Linked DNA regions of Homo sapiens: region 2 is linked to region 1. Evidence: fine-mapped expression QTL. Tissue or cell type: whole blood. Region 1 holds a variant in brackets; the other region holds the start of a gene. All regions are shown on one strand. Distances are between the middles of the regions.

Region 1 (9,179 bases):
ATCCTTGGATAAAAATTATGTCTGTTGGAAATGTTTAGTCGTTTAGGCACAGCAGATGTTTTCCATGAAAATAAACTTTGGCAATTGTTTCAAGAGTCACAATTTTTGAGAGTGTAGAGACCTTAAGGAGTCTCTTGTCTGATATTCAATTAATAGATACTGAAGAGGTAGTCTAGCTGTGATATATGAATCTTTCAGGATAAATCTTTCTTTATATTTACAGCAGCATTCCTATGATATTATTTGCCTGAGAACAACAATTTTATAAGGAGTTACAGTTATCAAATGCAGAGCTCTCCTTCACTCAGAAACATGTGGTGAGCTTTTACTGCGTGCCAGATTCTGGATGAAGCTGGAATTACAAAGACTAGTAAGGACCACAAAACAGAATCCTGTCACAACTTTGAGGAAGTCACATCTCATAAGTGGGCTCACTCAAGAGCTCTCAGAAAAGCACAGATGTGATGACTGTAAATGACAGTGTGAGGCCAATAATATCGACAGCCTTCATTGTGAAACCTTCTGTACACATTTGGTTGGTGACATTGTTTCCAGAATCTCTCATCATCTTCACTGCAAATAATTTGTGACCTTCCCTCCAAAGAAGCTCTTTATATCATTGTGAGCCATTTGATCTGTGATGGTGTTTCCCAGCCATCAGCAGGTGTCCTAGACCCCACCTCGTGAGACACATGTATATAGTTTTATTTAAACTCATAGCTGTACCCAACAAGCAAGTAATCAGTCAGAAAAAATTCCTAAATTTTTTCTGACCAGAATGCCAAGTAGGGCTGTTTATTCCACCTCATCGAGAATCAGACATGAAAGAAGTAAGGATTTTTGCAAACAAATAAGCAAAAATCCTTTTAAGTACAAAAAACTTTGGATAAACACTGTCAAAGGTAAAGGATTGGGAAATATTAATACTGGGCTTTGACTTACAATGTTAGGATTTTAAAAATAAATATTTACAGGCAGTAAATAGATTCCTTCATACTAGAGAAGCACACTGCTCCATTAGCTTACCTGCTGAAATCACTAACAGAGCTTCCACTCCTGTTCCCCAATCTCTCTTATCTTCCTCAAGCTGTAAGGCTTTACAATTTGGATATAGTGTAGTTAGTGCATTATTGTAAATAATGCTAAAAACATCACACAAATCCACTTTTTGAAAACATTCTTTTTACCTGAATGTTTAATCTTATTTTTCCATTTTTATTAAGATTTGGAATAAACAATTTTAAAAGGAAAGCATCTATAGTTAAAAGGATCAAAGTGGGGGCAGGATATGCCTTCGTTTTTTTAGAAATTCACTATGAAAACAACTTTTTGGAAATTTAAGTTGTTCAGGGAGACACATCTGGGGTATACATAAGCATCAGTTTATGCTTTTGATAACTTAAAAAGTAATGGAATCTTGCAAACTTGGATAATACTTTCATGTTAGACTTGTACTGTGTCCTCACTTTTGGAAAAAAGGGAAATGCTGGTTGGTATGGTGATTTGATGTTTCTGTGATCTTTCTCATTCTAAATAACTTCAAATTTCTACTTGTGTATGGGATATGCGTGTGTGTGTGTGTGTGTGTGTGTGTGTGTGTGTGTGAAATTTGTATCATTAAAACTAAGTTACATTTACAAGGCAAAGAGGCAGCCTTTGTACTATTTTGGTACTTTGACTTCTGTAGCCTTGTGGTTTCCAAGTTTGGGCCCTAGATCAGCAGCACAAGAAAAGTGAAAAGTGAAGAAAGAAGGAAACTAATGGAGATGATTTATTCAGATGGCTCCCTGAAAAGGCTCCATATTTTCCAGGTTTTTAAAACAGCCCTTCCTTTGTCCTTTCTATTCTATTCAGCTCTCTCTGTTTAATTCTGTGTTTTTGACTCTTTCCAGACTAATAAGACTGTTCTCGGCTTTGACCATCTTCTCTTTTAGTTTGTCTGTTGAAATTTTTAATTGCTTATTATACATATATATTATATATGTATATATTTAAATTTTAATTAAATGATTGAGTTTATACATGATTATATGGTAAATATGTTAAAATCAAATTACAAGTGCTTTTTTTCAGAAAGTCCATTTTGTGTTCTATTTTCTCCTTATGATTTATTTATTTTTTAAACTTTTAGGTTTGGGGGTACATGTGAAGATTTGTTACATAGACAAACACGTGGCATGTGGGTTTCTTGTACATATTATTTCCTCACTCAGGTATTAAGCCCAATATTCAATAGTTATCTTTTCTGCTGCTCTCCCTCCTCCCAGCCTCCCCCCTCAAGTAGACACCAATGTCTGTTGTTTCCTTCTTTGTGTTCATAAGTTCTTATCATTTAACTCCCACTTATAAGTGAGAACATGCAGTATTTGGTTTTCTGTTCATGTGTTAGTTTGCTAAGGATAATAGCCTTCAGCTTCACCCATGTTCCCACAAAAGCCGTGATTTAGTTCCTTTTTATGGCTCCATAGTATTTCATGGTGTAAATGTACCACATTTTCTTTATCCAATCTGTCATTGATGGAAATTTAGGTTGATTCTATGTCTTTGCTATTGGTGGGAATAGGGCTGTAATGAACATTCACGTGCCATGTGTCTTTACGGTGGAATGATTTACATTCCTCTGGGTGTATACCCAGTAATGGGATTGCTGGTCTAATGACAGTTCTTCTTTTAGCTCTTTGAGGAATCGCCATACTGCTTTCCACAATGTTAGAACTAATTTACACTCTCACCAACCATGTATTAGTGTTCCCTTTTCTCTGAAACCTTGCTAGCATCTGTTATTTTTTGACATTTTAATGATAGCCATTCTGACTGGTGTGAGATGGTATCTCATTGTGGTTTTGATTTACATTTCTCTAATGATCACTGATGTTCAGCTTTTTTTCATAAGATTGTTGGCCACATGTATGTCTTCTTTTGAGAAGTGTCTGTTCAAGTGCTCTGCTCACTTTTTCATGGGGTTGTTTTTCTCTTATAAATTTAAGTTCCTTATAGATGCTGGATATTAGACCTTTGTCAGACATATAGTTTGCAAATGTTTTCTCCCACTCTGTAGGTTGTCTGTTTACTCTGTTGATAGTTTCTTTTGCTGTGCAGTAGCTCTTAAGTTTAATTAGATCCCACTTGTCAATTTTTGCTTCTGTTGTGATTGCTTTTGGTGTCTTTCTCATAACATCTTTGCCGGTTTCTATGTCCAGGATGGTATTGCCTAGGTTGTCTTTCAGGGATTTTATAGTTTTAAGTCTGTAATCCATCTTGAATTGATCTTTTACGTGTGGTGTAAAGAAGGGTTCCAGCTTTAGTCTTCTGCATATAGCTAGCCAGTTATCCCAGCACCATTTATTGAATAGAGAATCTTTTCACCATTGCTTATTTCGGTTTACAAGTGTCTTTTGAGGATTTTTGCATTGATCTTCATTAAGGATGTTAACCTGAAG[C/T]TTTTTCTTGTTGATGTTGTTGTGTCTCTGCCAGGTTTTTGGTATCAAGATGATGCTGGCCTCATAGAATGAGTTGGGGAGGAATCCCTCCTCCTCCATATTTTGGAATAGTGCATGTAGGAATGGTGCTAGCTCTTTTTTGTACTCTGGTAGAATTTGGCTATGAATCCATCAGGTCCCAAGCTTTTTTCAGTTGTTAGGCTATTTATTACTGATTCAGTTTTGCAGCTCATTATTGATCTGTTCAGGGAATCAATTTTTTCCTGCCTCAGTCTTGGGAGGGCGAATGTGTCCATGAATTAATCCATCTTTTCTAGGTTTTCTAGTTTGTGTGTGTAGAGGTGTTCAAAGTAGCTTCTTATTTTTTTTTTTTTTTTTTCTGTAGAGTCAGTAGTCACATCCCCTTTGTCATTTCTAATCATGTTTATTTGGTTTTCTTCTCTTTTCTTCTTTATTAGTCTAGCTAGTGGTCTGTTTTATTATTTTTTTTTCAAAAAGCAAACTCTTGGATTCGTTGATATTTTGAATGGTTTTTCATGTCCCAATTTCCTTCATTTCAGCTCTAATTTTTGTTATTTCTCATCTTCTGCTGATCTGTTCTTGCTTCTCTAATTATTTCATTGTGATGTTAGGTTGTTAAGTTGAGATCATTTTAAATTTTTGATATGGGCATTTAGTGCTATGAATTTTCCTCTTAACATTGCCTTATCTGTGTCTGAGAGATTCTGGTATGTTGTATCTTTGTTCTCATTAGTTTCAAAGAACTTCTTGATTTCTGTCTTAATTTAATTATTTACCCAAAAGTCATTCAGAAGCATGTTGTTTAATTTCAATGTAATTGCATGATTTTGAGCAATTTTCATAGTCTTGACCTCTATTTTTATTGCACTGTGGTCCAAGGGTGTGTTTGGTATAAGTTGAGTTCTTTTACATTTGTTGAAGATTGTTTTATGTCCAATTTTGTGGTAGATTTTAGAGTATTTGCCAGGTGATGATTAGAAGAATGTTTATCCTGTTTTTTCCTTGTTTGTTTGTTTGTTTGGGTTGAGAGTTGTGTAAAGGCTTATCGGATCCATTTGGTGCAATGTTGAGTTTAGGTCCTGAATATCTTTGTTGATTTTCTGCCTCAATGATCTGTCTAATAGTGTCAGTGGAGTGTGGAAGTCTCCCACTATTGTTGTGTAGGAGTCTATGTCTCTTGGTAGGTCTCTGTGATGGTTAATACTGAGTGTCAACTTGATTGGATTGAAGGATCCTGAGTGTGTCTGTGAGGGTGTTGCCAAACGAGATTAACATTCCAGTCAGTGGGCTGGGAAAGGCAGACCTGCTTTTAATCTGGGTGGGCACCATCTAGTTAGCTGCCAGTGTGGCTAGAATATAAAGCAGGCAGAAAAATGTGAAAAGATGAGACTGGCCTGGCTTCCCAGCATACATCTTTCTCCCATGCTGGATTCTTCCTGCCCTCGAACATCGTACTCCAAGTTCTTCAGTTTTGGGACTTGGATTGGCTCTCCTTGTTTCTCAGCTTGCAGATGGCCTATTGTGGGACCTTGTGATCATGTCAGTTAATACTTAATAAACTCCCCTCTATTTCTATATCTATCCTATTAGTTCTGTCCCTCTAGAGAACCCTGACTAATACAGTCTCTAAGAACTTGGTTTATGAATCTGGGTGCTCCTGTGTTGGGTGCATATACATTTAGGATAGTTAGATCTTATTGAGTTGAACCCTTTACCATTATGTATTGCCCTTCTTTGTCTTTTTTTTTTAAATCTTTGCTGGTTTTAAATCTGTTTTGTCTGAAATTGGGATTGCAACCCCTGCTTTTTTCAGTTTTCTATTTGCTTGGCAGATTTTCCTACATCGTTATATTTTGAGCTTATGAGTGACATTACATGTGAGATGGGTCTCTTGAAGACAGCATACTATTGGGTCTTACTTTTTTATCCAGTTTGGCACTCTGGGCCTTTGAGTTGAGCATTTAGCCCATTTACATTCAAGGTTAGTATTGACAGGTGTGAATTTGATCCTGTCATTATGATGTTAGCTGGTTACTATGTTGGCTTGTTTGTGTGGTTGTTTTACACTGACATTGGTCTGTGTGTTTAAGTGTGTTTTTGTATTTGCTGATAGTGGTCTTTCCCTTCTAGATTTAGCGTTCCTCTCAAGATCTCTTGTAAGGCAGGTCTGGTGGTAATGAATTCCCACAACATTTGCTTATCTGAAAAGGATCTTATTTCTCCTTCACTTAGAAAGCTTAGTTTGGCTGGATATGAAATTCTTGGTTGAAGACTTTTTTTTTTTTTTAAGAATGTTGAATATAAGCCCCCAATCTCTTCTGGCTTGTAGGGTTTTGGCTGAGAGGTCAGCTGTTAGCCTGATGGGGTTCCCTTTGTAGGTAACATGCCCTTTCTCTCTAGCTGCCTTTAACATTCTTTCTTTACCTTCGACTTTGGAAAATCTGATGATTACGTGTCTTGGGGATGAATGTCTTGCGTACAATCTTGTGGGAGTTCTCTGTTTTTCCTGAATTTAACTGTTAGCCTCTCTAGCAAGGCTGGGGAAGTTTCCATGGACAACATCTTGAAATATGCTTTCCAAATTGTCTGCTTTCTCCCCCTTTCTTTCAGGGATGCCAGTGATTAATAGATTTGGCCTCTTTACATAATCCCATACTTCTTGGAGGTTTTGTTCATTCCTTTTTATTCTTTTTGCTTTATTTTTGTCTGACTGTCTTATTTCAGAGAACCAGTCTTCAAGTTCAGAGATTCTTTCCTCACCTTGGTTTATTCTGCTGTTAATACTTGTGATTGCATTGTGAAATTCTTGTATTGTATTATTCAGCTCTGTCAGAACAGTTAGGTTCTTTTTTATACCAGCTTTGTCTTTCAGCTCCTGTATCACTTTATTGTGATTCTTATTTTCCTTGGGTTGAGTTTTGCTGCCCTCCTGAATCTCAATGATCTTTATTCCTCTCCATATTCTGAATTCTATTTCTCTCATTCTAGCCAGTTCAGCCTGGTTAAGAACTCTTGTTGGAGATTTGGTAAGGTCGTTTGTAGAACATAGGATACTCTGGCAATTTGAGTTACCAGAGTTCTTGTGTTGGTTCTTTCTCATCTCCACATGTGGATGTTCCTTTAATTGCAGCATAGATTGAGCACAGACTGAAGGTCTTAGTGGAGTGGGTTCACAAGGAGATCTCCTGACTGGAGGGTTGCAAAGATCCATCAGAGAAGCGTAGTATTCTGGGGTCACACATTCATTCACTACTGCTTCCCTGGGCAGGAAGTTTTTTTTTCTTCTTCTTCTTTTCTGGATGTTTTCAACAGGCTGAGGTTTTGTGCAGGGTCTTTATTTGAAGCTGACTTCTTGTCTCTGGTTTCAGAGGGGGGTATGTTAGTGAGGTGTTTTTGGTGTTGAAGCTTTGGGGTGTGATCCAGCAGGTGGTGCTTAGACTTATTGGTCAGTTGGTGGACTTTTGCTTAGTTATGTGGCTCCCCTATGTTCTCTCAGTTGCAGCCACGTTCCCTTTCAATGCTCTGAAAGTGTGGATTCCTTTCCTCCTTGAGTGCTGGCTGTAGACTGTGACTTGGAATTCCTGGGCTGCCCACTGCAGCTCTGGGGTGATCTCAGTATTTATGTTCCTTCCCCATCTTGGAGGCAGCGAGCAAGAGACTTTAGTATGATTATGGCCAAGGGGTGTTTGCTTGTCTCCTGGGGGCTCCAACTCAGGGAGATGCAGGTCAGTAATCGCTCAGTGCAATCAGCCCAGGATGAAGGGTCTGTGCTGAGGGCCCCAGCCAAGGTTTTCCTGTCTGGTGTCAAGCGGTGGAGGGTACGTGGGACCCGTGGGAGATGGACTGGCTTCTTCTCCTTGGGTTGGCTGCAGTATGTTGGAGGTGTGGATAATGCACTTTGGGTCTTTGCTCCTTTGATAGTCTGAGGGTGGCAAGGACAGTTCTGCTGCAGAGGCAGTGGCAGAGGAGGCTTTCAGTTGCCCCTGGAGGCTCTGTCCATGGAGTTGCTGAGTTGCTACTGGCTCAATAGCTCTACTGGTGGATCCGGGGGGTGATGGCTGGAAGTCCAGGCCTGGAGAACCTGCCTGGTGAGGAGATAGGGGAATGGGCACCCATATAACAGTCTTTCCACTTTTCTGTAGGGCTGCTGTGGTATGCTAGGGGCCCACTCCAGTCCCTAGTCACCTTAGATTTTCCAGTACCTGGAAGTATCACCAGTGAACCTATGAAACAGCAAAGATGGCAGCCTATCCTTCCCTCTGGCTTTGTCCCAGGGAGGTACAGGCCTGTTGCCATCCCAAAGGTACCTGTAGGAGGTGGGTAGAGATCCTGTTTGGGGGGTCCCACCCAGTGAGGAGGAATGCAATTGGGGACTTACTTAAAAAAGCAGTCTGGCCACATTTTGGTAGAGTACCTGTGCTGTACTGTGAGTCTACTTCAGTCCTCAGTTTCCCCAGACACTCTGAAACCCAAAGGCTGGAACAGCTAAGCTGCCCAAACAGCAAAGATGGTGGCCTGCCTCTCCCTCTGGGAACACTGTCCCAGGGAGAACTCAACTCTCTGTCAGCTGGAGAACACTGGCAGGGGTTGCTGGAGGCCCAGTTTGAGAGGTCCTGCCCAGTGAGGAGAAGTGGATCAGGGACCTGCTTAAAGTAGCAGTCTATGTTTTGGTAGAGCAGCTGTGATGTGCTGAGGGATCCCTTTCACCCCCAGTGGGCTCAGACTCTCTGAAGCCTGAAAGCTGAAACGTCTCAGGCACCCAAACAGCAAAGATGGCAGCCTGGGTCTCCCCCTGGGAGCTCCTTCTTAGGGAGGTACAATGCCACTACTTGTGGCTGGCTGGAATTCCAAGCCAGTGAGTCTCATCTTGTGAGATGCCATGGAAGTGGGGCCTGCTGACTGTCACTGCTCAGCCTCCTGGATTCAGCCTCTTTCCTATGGGTATGTATGGGGGTCTAACATCCCACTTTGCCAGAGTTGCAGCTACTTTTGCCAGAAAGCTCAAGTAGCTAATGCTCCAGGGTCTCCATGCATGCCTGAGTGGCTGCTTTGCTGAGACTCCACATAGCTCTGTCTGTCAGACAGAAGGCCCTAGTGGAGTAGGTTCACAAGGAGATCTGACTGGAGGGTTGCAAAGTTCCATCAGGGAAGCGTGGTTTTCTGGTGTCACACATTCACTCACTACTTTCCCGGGCAGGGGAGGTTCCCCTGGGTCCATGTTGCTTCTGGATGGCCTGTAGTCCTTTTTTGCTTTTCTTCATTCTCCATGGGTCAAGTTGTTTCCTTGATTAGTCCCAATGTGAGTACCTGGATATTTCAGTTGCAGATGTATTTACTTGCCTCTTCCATTCCTCTCTGTGAGAGCCATGCACACTAGCTGCTTCTAGTCGCCCACCTTGGCCACTCTCATCAAGATTTATTGTTAATTTCTTTATGTCTTCATTTATTCTTCAAAAGGAAGTCCTTGTCCTATATAATCAATTTGCCTTGCTTTTTTGGATTACATGGTCCAAGCATATTATGATTTTGCTCTTCTTGCTGAGGAGGTTATATCCCTTCAACATTCAAATTGTTTTAGACCCTCCATTACCAGCAGCAGTGAATGTCTATTCTTGTGGGCCAGTGGTGAATGAATTGGCCAATCATTGTACTTCTGCTGAGATTCTGAGAGAGGGAGCTTTGCTAATGACTAATGATGGTGAGCAACTTTTCATATGT
Region 2 (9,179 bases), 140 kb before region 1:
TGAAGTGCAGCTCTGAGGGCTCTGACTCTCTTGATCTAAGGAAGGTGAAGGGCCTGAAACACTCTTTCCTGCCAGAAGTGAGGGAACAGCCTCTGCCTCCCAACAACTCTCCTCAGGCCCAAGGGTGAGAGATTTTTGCCCCTAGAAAGCAGGGTTTACAAGAAGAAAGTGTCCACAGTTACCACTGCTGCCCACCTGGCGTCCATCTTCCTTCCAGAGATCAGACAGTAAACAAAGGATGATAAGGCCCCTCAAAAAGGAAACTCAATGTCTTCAGATCTGTCTACATCCTTGATCTCCAAAGTTTAGGTATGGAGGAAATAGATTAAAGGTGAACTTCTTATTTTGCTATTTGCTATTTGGCCTTGGCCCTAATGGTCAGGCCATGGCTGTTTCCTCCTGTGGCATGGCGGACTGCGTAATTTAAGCACCAATCACATGCACACATCTACATGCATTTTGGTATAACTCACCACCATCTAACAAGAGATCCAACTTTAAATAAGGGGAAAATGAAATCTGTACCTGTCGGGTGCTTTCTGTTTGCAGGTAACTAGTAATCAACCTGTCATTGAATCCTGACATCCCATTCATACTGGGTACATATATTACTTAGCTATTGTATAACAAACCATGCAAGACTTCCTAGCTCATGATGGAGTTGCTCAGCCATTTGGGCAGGGCTCAACTGGGCCATTCTTGTGGGCTCAGGTGGGCTCCTTCAGGCATATGTGATCAGCTGCTGTTGACTAGGCGGCTCTGCTTCTGAGTGTGAGTTGGCTGTCAACTGGAGCAGTTTGGCTCTCCTCCCCATGGTATCTCATTCTCCAGCAGGCTAACATGGGCTTGCAGTCATGGAGATGGTAGGGTTCTCCAGAAATGGGACATTTCAGCAAATTTTGACTGTCCTCAAGATCCTTAGGGGAGTCTTTTTCCTTTCAGCTCCAGAACCCTCTCACTGGGTCCTGACTCTGGGCTCCCTTTCTTACCTCCAGGTGAGCAGGAGACCTGGATCCTGGTCCCCAGAAAAAACGGAGGCCCCAGGGCTTCCATGGAGGAGGGTCAGATTTTTATTTTTACTTGTCTGCATTCTAACTATGAATTCTCCCTTATATGCATAATTAAAAAGGGATTCAAGAATTTATTATATAACTCTTAGACCCCTCAGACAAATAAAATTTCTACAAATGTATTAGCAAGAGGAGAAGATTCATAAACAGATTTATTTAATGAGAACTGTTGCTGACCTGTGGAATTCCATCCTTAACTCCAAAGAGTGGTGTATTTGTGGGTGAGGTGGAGGGGTGGGTGGGTTGGAGTGGGGTGTTACCTTCTAACCCTTAGCCTAGTAAGGGAGGCCTCAAGGGAGCTACTTGGAGAATTTGAAATATGGCCCCTGAAATTGAGGACACAGAGGGCTAGTGTCTGACCCAGTAGAGAGAACTACAGTGGACTGTAGCATCAGGGGCTGACTTTCTTGGGTATAATCAAAAAGGGCTGATTCCTTTGATTGTAGAACTAGGAGAATGGAGCTACATTGGGATTGGCCTGTGCTCCCAAAGTTGTTGGTGCAAGGTATGTATCATCATTCCTACAGAGGGGATTTAGACTATTTGGGGAAAGGGGAAGAACTGGCTTGGGGTTGTCTTAGGCCTCTCCTCCAACTTAAATGAGCTTCTAGAAGAAGATTACAAGACCTCAGCAGGAAAAGGAATAATTAAGTATACCTCAGTATGCTCTGGGGCTTGTGGAGGAGATATAAGTGACTACCTGTCAGTGGCTCAAGTCCCTGCAAGTTTGTGTCTTTCCACAGTCAGACTTTTGTTGATGCTATTTCAATCATAAAAGCCATGAGCTGTATGAAGGTCCGAAGGAGGTAATTTTCCTTAGTAGTACCCATTCATTTGGTAGTCAGAACCAAGGACACAAAGCTCTAGCCACTCCACAAGTCAGTCAATATTGCAAACCAAACATAGTAGTATACATAACATATAAATATTATAGGCTAAACATTCTAAAAGAAAATAACATTTAACATCAAGAGAAAGGTTAGGAAAACAGGATTAACCAATCCAAGGAGAGCAACATGGACAAGGAGAGTGTCCTCGGCTGATCAGGATGCATATCAACATTTTGCAAGGAAGAGTCTTTGATTTGAGCAGAACCTTTGGTGGCAGATGCTAGATGCTGATCATGAGTGACAGTAAGACAGTGTCTGTTAAGATGGCTATCTTGAGCTGTTGAAGTTCTACTCTTTTTATAGCCTCAGAGTCCTCTGGTGTTGACTGATAGTAAAGAGTGTGCCTGCAATAGCAAATACTTGGAACCAACTGAAATGTCCATCAGTGATAGACTGGATTAAGAAAATGTGGCACATATACACCATGGAATACTATGCAGCCATAAAAAAGGATGAGTTCATGTTCTTTGTAGGGACATGGATGAAGCTGGAAAACATCATTCTCAGCAAACTATTGCAAGGACAGAAAACCAAACACCACATGTTCTCACTCATAGGTGGGAATTGAACAATGAGAACACTTGGACACAGGAAGGGGAACATCACACACTGGGCCCTGTTGTAGGGTGGGGGAAAGTGGGGAGGGATAGCATTAGGAGATATACCTGATGTAAGACTAGTTAATGGGTGCAGCACCTCAACATGGCACATGTATGCATATGTAACAAATCTGCACGTTGTGCACATGTACCCTAGAACTTAAAGTATAATAATAATAATAATAATAATAATAATAATAATAAAAGAGTGTGCCTGGTTATGTCGTTATCTGGTTGGGTGCAGTCTCTATTGATTAGGTGAACATCTGGTCCCTTTTGGCATGATTCCTTTTGAAATGTAAACAGAATCTTTTTCTAAGAAGTAGTTACTTATGTCAAGGGTGCTCTATACAATCTGGAATAGAGATATCAACCTGGAAGCGATACCTCTCTTCACTTTAAGGAAGCTATGACAGAGGTCTCCAGGGATATGAATTATTAGGAAGAAAGAGTGAAATTCAAACATTTGCAGGTCTAGAGGGCTTAAAGCCAGCTTATGATGGTACCAGTTCAAGTTAAAACTGTATTCTCCCCTATTCCCTTCTTATTCTGTCCAGGCAGGAAGGACCATCCTATTTTTTCCCTCAGGCTTCCAGCCGGAAGTAGATTATAGGTAGAGCATAACTCATCACCACATAATACATTGGAAAAAGATGATGGTATTTTTTCTCAGAGTTGTTTCTTGACTACATCACAGTGGTGAAACATGCACTCACACCCCTGTGGACTCAGGTAAGCCATCCCAAGAGTTTCCTCCCTGTGGACTCAGGTAAGCCATCCCAAGAGTTTCCTCCTTCTTCTTCATTGTGGGCCTATGGCAGTGTGTTTTGTTTGCTGATGCATATACCTTTACATACAAAGCTATCATGGAAATTCACAGGCATGCATACATCTGAATAGAAAGGCTATAACATCATGTGATAAGTTCATGTCCAGCCAACCAGTTATCCCGGCTGGGCACCAGTGCCAGTAAATTAGAGTGATTTGGGCAGCTAGTCAACTTTTATTCAGAGTCAGCTGTCTCATGCGTCCGTGTGAAGAGACCACCAAACAGGCTTTGTGTGAGCAACATGGCTGTTTATTTCACATGGGTGCAGGCGGGCTGAGTCCGAAAAGAGAGTCGGCAAAGGGTGGTGGGATTATCATTGGTTCTTACAGTTTTTCGGATAGGAGGTGGAGTGAAGAGCAATGTTTTGGGGGTAGGGGGTAGATCTCACAAAGTACATTCTCAAGGGTGGGGAGAATTACAAAGAAACTTCTTAAGGGTGGGGGAGATTATAAAGAACATTGATCAGTTAGGGTGGGGCAGAAACAAATCACAATGGTGGAATGTCATCAGCTAAGCTATTTTCACTTCTGTGGATCTTCAGTTGCTTCAGGCCAGCTGGATGTATACGTGAAGGTCACTGGGGATATGATGGCTTAGCTTGGGCTCAGAGGCCTGACATCAGCCATTCTTGCAACCTGGTAAGGAGTTCTGCTAATCACACACATTCCACCTTGTACACGAGGGCCAAACTTCCTTTTGGTGAAGAAGTATAAACCTCTAAAATTGACTTGGATCTCCAGGTCCACCTAGCCCATTCTTTGTGGAGTTCCCTTGCTGTTCTAGTCTATCAACTTAGGCTGAGTCAAATATCTCAATAGGTTGCCCAGCTATGAGCCAACACCCTGCTCTGCAGCCCTCCCACATCTCAGCTTGCAGGGAAGCCAGCGAGGGCAGCGTGGTGATGTCACTGCGTCCGCACGCGCCCCGCCCCTGAGCAGTCCTTGCTGCCCCGCCCCCGCTCGGCTCGCCGCCAGGGGACGCTAGTGGGTCCAGTCTCCTTGGCAACCACTTGCTCCTCCCCCTCCGCCCCTTTAACCTTTAGGGTGCGCGGGTGCAGTATATCTCGCGCTCTCTCCCCTTTCCCCCTCCCCTTTCCCCACCCCGGGCGCTCAGGTTGGTCTGGACCGGAAGCGAAGATGGCGACTTCTGGCGCGGCCTCGGCGGAGCTGGTGATCGGCTGGTGCATATTCGGCCTCTTACTACTGGTAGGGGAGGCGCTTGGAGTTTTCCCCATGTTTGGACTGGGGGAGGAAGGGAGGGGCAGGCCCTGCAGTTGGCCTCTCCGGGCCCCGGAGACCCTCTTCGCCCCGCCCCGCTTTTAGCTTGGACTGTGGAGGGCTCCTTAGTGTTGGGGGCTTGGGCGGGCGGCGGGGGCAGGGGGGTGTCGATTTCCGGTCTCTTTTGCTGTCATTTCACCGATGACGTCTAGGGTTGCAGGGTCCTTTTTGGAAGCTCTTGCCGTCATCGCTGACTTGGGCAATGGGGCCGGTGGGGTTTGGGGGCGGAAGAGACCCTCGGGGTTGAGAAGTATGTGGTGGCCTTTCGTCCCCTGTAAAACATTGTCACACGGTGTGGGGCGGCAGCGCTGGATCTTTGCAAGTTAAGTAGGCGCTGGCGTTGTTTACTTGTCACCTTCTCTGTATGTTTTTTCCCTCATTTTCCCTACCCTTGGGGCTAGTGAGTCTCCAACCTCTGTGCCCATTGTGTGATTCTGCCTTGATGACGTGAGTTGCTCGTTCTGACTTCCAGGTGTCACATTCTCTTCTAATCTTTTTTTGATTGGTGTAGATACCTGTGGAGGGCGGAGCTGTAGCCCTCTTTATTACCAGTATCGGAGTATATACTACTACCTGTCTGACCTCAGGTGCTTTCTTTTCCAACGATCTTATTTCTGCATATTCAGTGAGCAAAGTGTAGATAGAAATGTCTCAGAGTGGCCTGGCTATTACTTCCCTGTTCATATTAAAACCCTTTGGTTTATTTGGGAGTTCAATTTATTTCCTTTCATAACTTCTCTACCTTCTCAAATCTTCTCTTTTCTCATCGTCCGAGGCTGTAGTTACTTTCTGTTCTCACGTATTTTGACCTTTTTGCATTGCAAAACAAAAACCTCCAGTTCTGGAAATCAGGCTTGTTTGGTTTTACTTTAATTGTCAGATCCAGTTGGTGTCTGGTACCTATGTAGTATGTTCTAGTAGATTTTTGCAGTAGAGACTAAAAAAAGAAAATAAAAGAAAAGAATGGTGTGAAAATTTAAGAAAAGGATCCTCTTGTTACTGCCATCACTGTCACAGATAAAAACACTGCCTTTACCCTGGAACATGTTAGTCCTCTCTTGGAGGAAATGAAACCCTAAAGGTTGACTGTGGTCTCTGCAGCCACCCAGTCCTGTATTTGGAGAGCCCCCTGGCTTTTCCAGTCCATCAGATTTAGTTTGTTTAGAAAAAAATAAATAAGCATGTAATGTATGAAAGTTACGTGAGACTATCTTGGCAGTTATAAATTAATAAACATTTACGGTACAGAAGTGGTGTGAATTGTAAGAGGATGTAAACCAAACAAAATACGGCTTTAAAGAGGGCCTGAAGATAAGTGAGAAAACTGAAATTCTTGAAACATGTATTTTATGGACCGAAAGCCAAAGTGTGACTATAAATAAAGCAGGACTTAAGAGAATAGACAACAATATTGGAAGAAAATGAGAATTGTGGTAGAGTTTGGATAGATGAAGAAGAGAGGCCATTTAAGTTGGCAATATTACAGCAAGGACAAATAAAATCAGAATTGAATGTTGTCGTGGATAAAAGCATTAGGAAGAAGGACTTTTGTTTAAATTTCTGCAAATCTCTTTAAATCCTGGTTTATTAGAAGAAAGGCTGGTTTCTTTTGTTGCCTTCTACATTCAGTCTTTTGGGGTATGTTATTTTAGTCGAAGTGTATGGAGAAAATACAGCTGCAATGATAGGTAGTCAGAAACAGAGGAGCGTTTTTCAGATAATTGTGGATGTTTTTTGACACTACACCAAAGCTCAACAAGTGGAAGATTCATGTCAGCTGCAAGGTGGAATCTGAAACCCTATCAATGAGCATTTCATTCATTGTTACATTAAAATCCATTAGCCCATCTTGCACTTTGAAAGGCTCTTTTACCCATGCATGGTTTTATAACATGATGCCATGGCCACTTAGAAAATGTTGGTTTACTGAGTTATGCACATCTTTTAAATATGGATACGTTTCATTACACAATATCAAAATATCACATTTCATTAAATTACAACTGATCTTGTCAGAAATGTCTCTGAAAATTCTAAGTATTGAAGAGTTGTCAAGCTCATACTTGTGGATGTAAGTCTTTCAAAATCCAATTTTCATTTGAAAGTTTGACTCATAATTATCATTGGTATCAAATACTGTCAGTTTTTCTTTAAGTGATAGATTCCCTTTGTTCATTTGACAAAATCTGCCAAAAAGCGAAGTCTGAATAACCAGTTTGACAATTGTTCTTTCAAGTAAAAATGGTGTTCCTTGAAGAGTGGTTGGTTTAGCTTTTAACTCTAAACTTTTCCTGGAGATAGCCATCACATCTTGGTATGCAGCAGGACTTTATGTACGCATGCTTCATATTTTACCCCACAAAGTATTAAAAAGAGTCAAGGGTTGAATTTCAATAAAATGAATTTATGCTGCTTTGTGAAGCACAGTCTTAATTTAAATTGTCCCTTTTTGAACTTGTGGTGAAGAATACAATGATTACTGGTGCAGTTTGGTGCCACTGTCTTGATTCACGCTAATGCACCAGTAGTTTTACCCACTGTGGCTATGAACCATGAGTGCAAATGTCAGCACAGTGAAAAAGGCAAATAGCATCTTAGTATTTATTATGAGAATAGTTTTCAACTTCTGAATCTCCAGAAAGGATTCTGGGGACTACCAGGGCCTAGGGATTTCACACTTGGAGAACTTCTGCCAATCATCTACTAAATATTCAGGACATGGGCCAGGTGTGGTGGCTCACACCTGTAATCCCAGCACTTTGGGAGGCTGAGGCAGGTGGATCAGTTGAGCTCAGGAGTTGAGACCAGCCTGGGCAGCATGGCAAAGCCCCATTCCTACTAAAAATACAAAAAATTAGCCGGGCGAGGTGGCAAATGCCTGAGGTTCCAGCTACTCAGAAGGCTGAGGTGGGAGGATTGCTTGAGCCCAGGAGGTGGTTTGTGGAGGCAGTTGCAGCAAGCTCTGATAGTGCCTGGGCAACAGAGGGAAACTTCGTCTCAAAAAAAAAAAAAAAAAAAAAAAGATTCAGGACATGAATGTTGCCTACTTTTGTGATCGTGGGCAAAAAGAATGGACTTCAGTTTCTTCACACATAAGGAATTGTTAGATTTGGTATCTCATGCCTGTAATCTAACTATGTCTGTCTTTACTATATCAAATCTAAACTGTTCTATCTAGCTTCAATGTCCTCTGTAATTTGGCTCACACCACCTTTAAATTGTATTTGCCATTACAATAGGAGACTCTCCATTTTTGTAAAGCAAATTTATTCTTGTTCCTTAAAGTGTGGGCATCATCTGGGAACTTGTTAGAAATACCAAATATGTGACCCCAGTCCTACTGAATCAGATCTGCAGTTTAACAAGATCCCATACAGTATGTCATCTATTCTCATTAGTTTAATGAAGATTCATCTCTTCTCATTCCTTCTTCTGCCCCAGTGGTTTGCAAACTTGACCTTTCATCAGAACCACCTGGGGAGTTTTAAAAATCTCAGTGTTCAGACCAATTTATTTTGAATCTTTTGGGAGAAGCTGGGGGGACTATTTGAAACTTTTCTTTATAATTGTTAACAGAGTTATATATTTGTTTCTTTTATCAAATTATCTAATAACTACTACTGTTTGTTAAGCAGTTACTATGGCCAGCCACTATGGTAAACCCTTTATATCTCATTTAATCCTTATAACTTGTTATGAAAGAAGTATTCCTATAGACGAGGATACTTGGTTTTATTTTATATTGTAGTAATGATTGATAACATGAACAAAAAGCTCTTTAAGGTTATCAGTTTTAAAACCATTATAAAGGGATTCTGAGACCAAAAAGTTTGGGAATCTCTGGCTTAACTCTTCTGCCTGGTTGCCGTTTCCTAGCTTGTCTGCCTGATATTGGCAAAATCCTTTGTTTGCAGTAATACCTACAAAATGCAGGTTTTCTTTCATTCTTGAAATCCAATAAAAAATTTATTGGAACACTTTGTGTCAAGTACTGCTGAGGATATAAAGATGAGACTCAGCTTTCAAAGACTTCAGAATGAATTTGGGGAATGTTAAAAATATTTATGAATTCCTTTAAAAACAAGCTCATTCAAATATTAATACAAAGTCACATTTTATGAAAAATAAATTTCCCAAAATCAAGAATTTGAGCCTAGATCCTTTTTGTTTGTTTGTTCCAAAGTCTTAACTCCCTTCTCAGTCAATTCTTTCCTGCTATTCTGTCACCAGTTGAAAGGCCAGCAGTATGAAGCAATGACATGCAGCAACTTGGATGGGTTTTAAATGCACTGTGCCAAATGACACTAGCCAGACTGAAAAGACAACATACTATATGAAGGCATTATGATATTCTAGAAAAGGCAGAAACTATAGGGGCAGAAAACAGATAGTGGTTGTCAGGGTGATACTGGTGGGCTGAGGGAGATCCCCAAACACTGGTGGGATCTCAACCCCAGCTGGTTTTCAGGCTCTTGACACTGTCATGAGAAGACATTAAAGGGCAAGTCAGAAAA

Evidence for each region.
Region 2: LMBRD1 starts here. The variant in region 1 is fine-mapped to the expression of LMBRD1 in whole blood (INTERVAL, PIP 0.96).

Annotation. Positions count from the first base shown.
Region 1 is chr6:69,654,693-69,663,871 of GRCh38, reverse strand. No RefSeq gene overlaps it. Among named protein-coding and RNA genes, the nearest start is that of LMBRD1, 140 kb to the left of the region's middle. RefSeq lists an enhancer at 8,286-8,787. The variant C/T (reference allele first, on the strand shown) is at 3,441.
Region 2 is chr6:69,792,227-69,801,405 of GRCh38, reverse strand. LMBRD1 (LMBR1 domain containing 1) reads left to right here and starts at 4,396. Exons shown (of 16, transcript NM_018368.4): 1 at 4,396-4,593. The coding sequence starts at 4,525. RefSeq lists enhancers at 4,475-4,704, 4,333-4,888, 5,015-5,064, 4,889-5,445.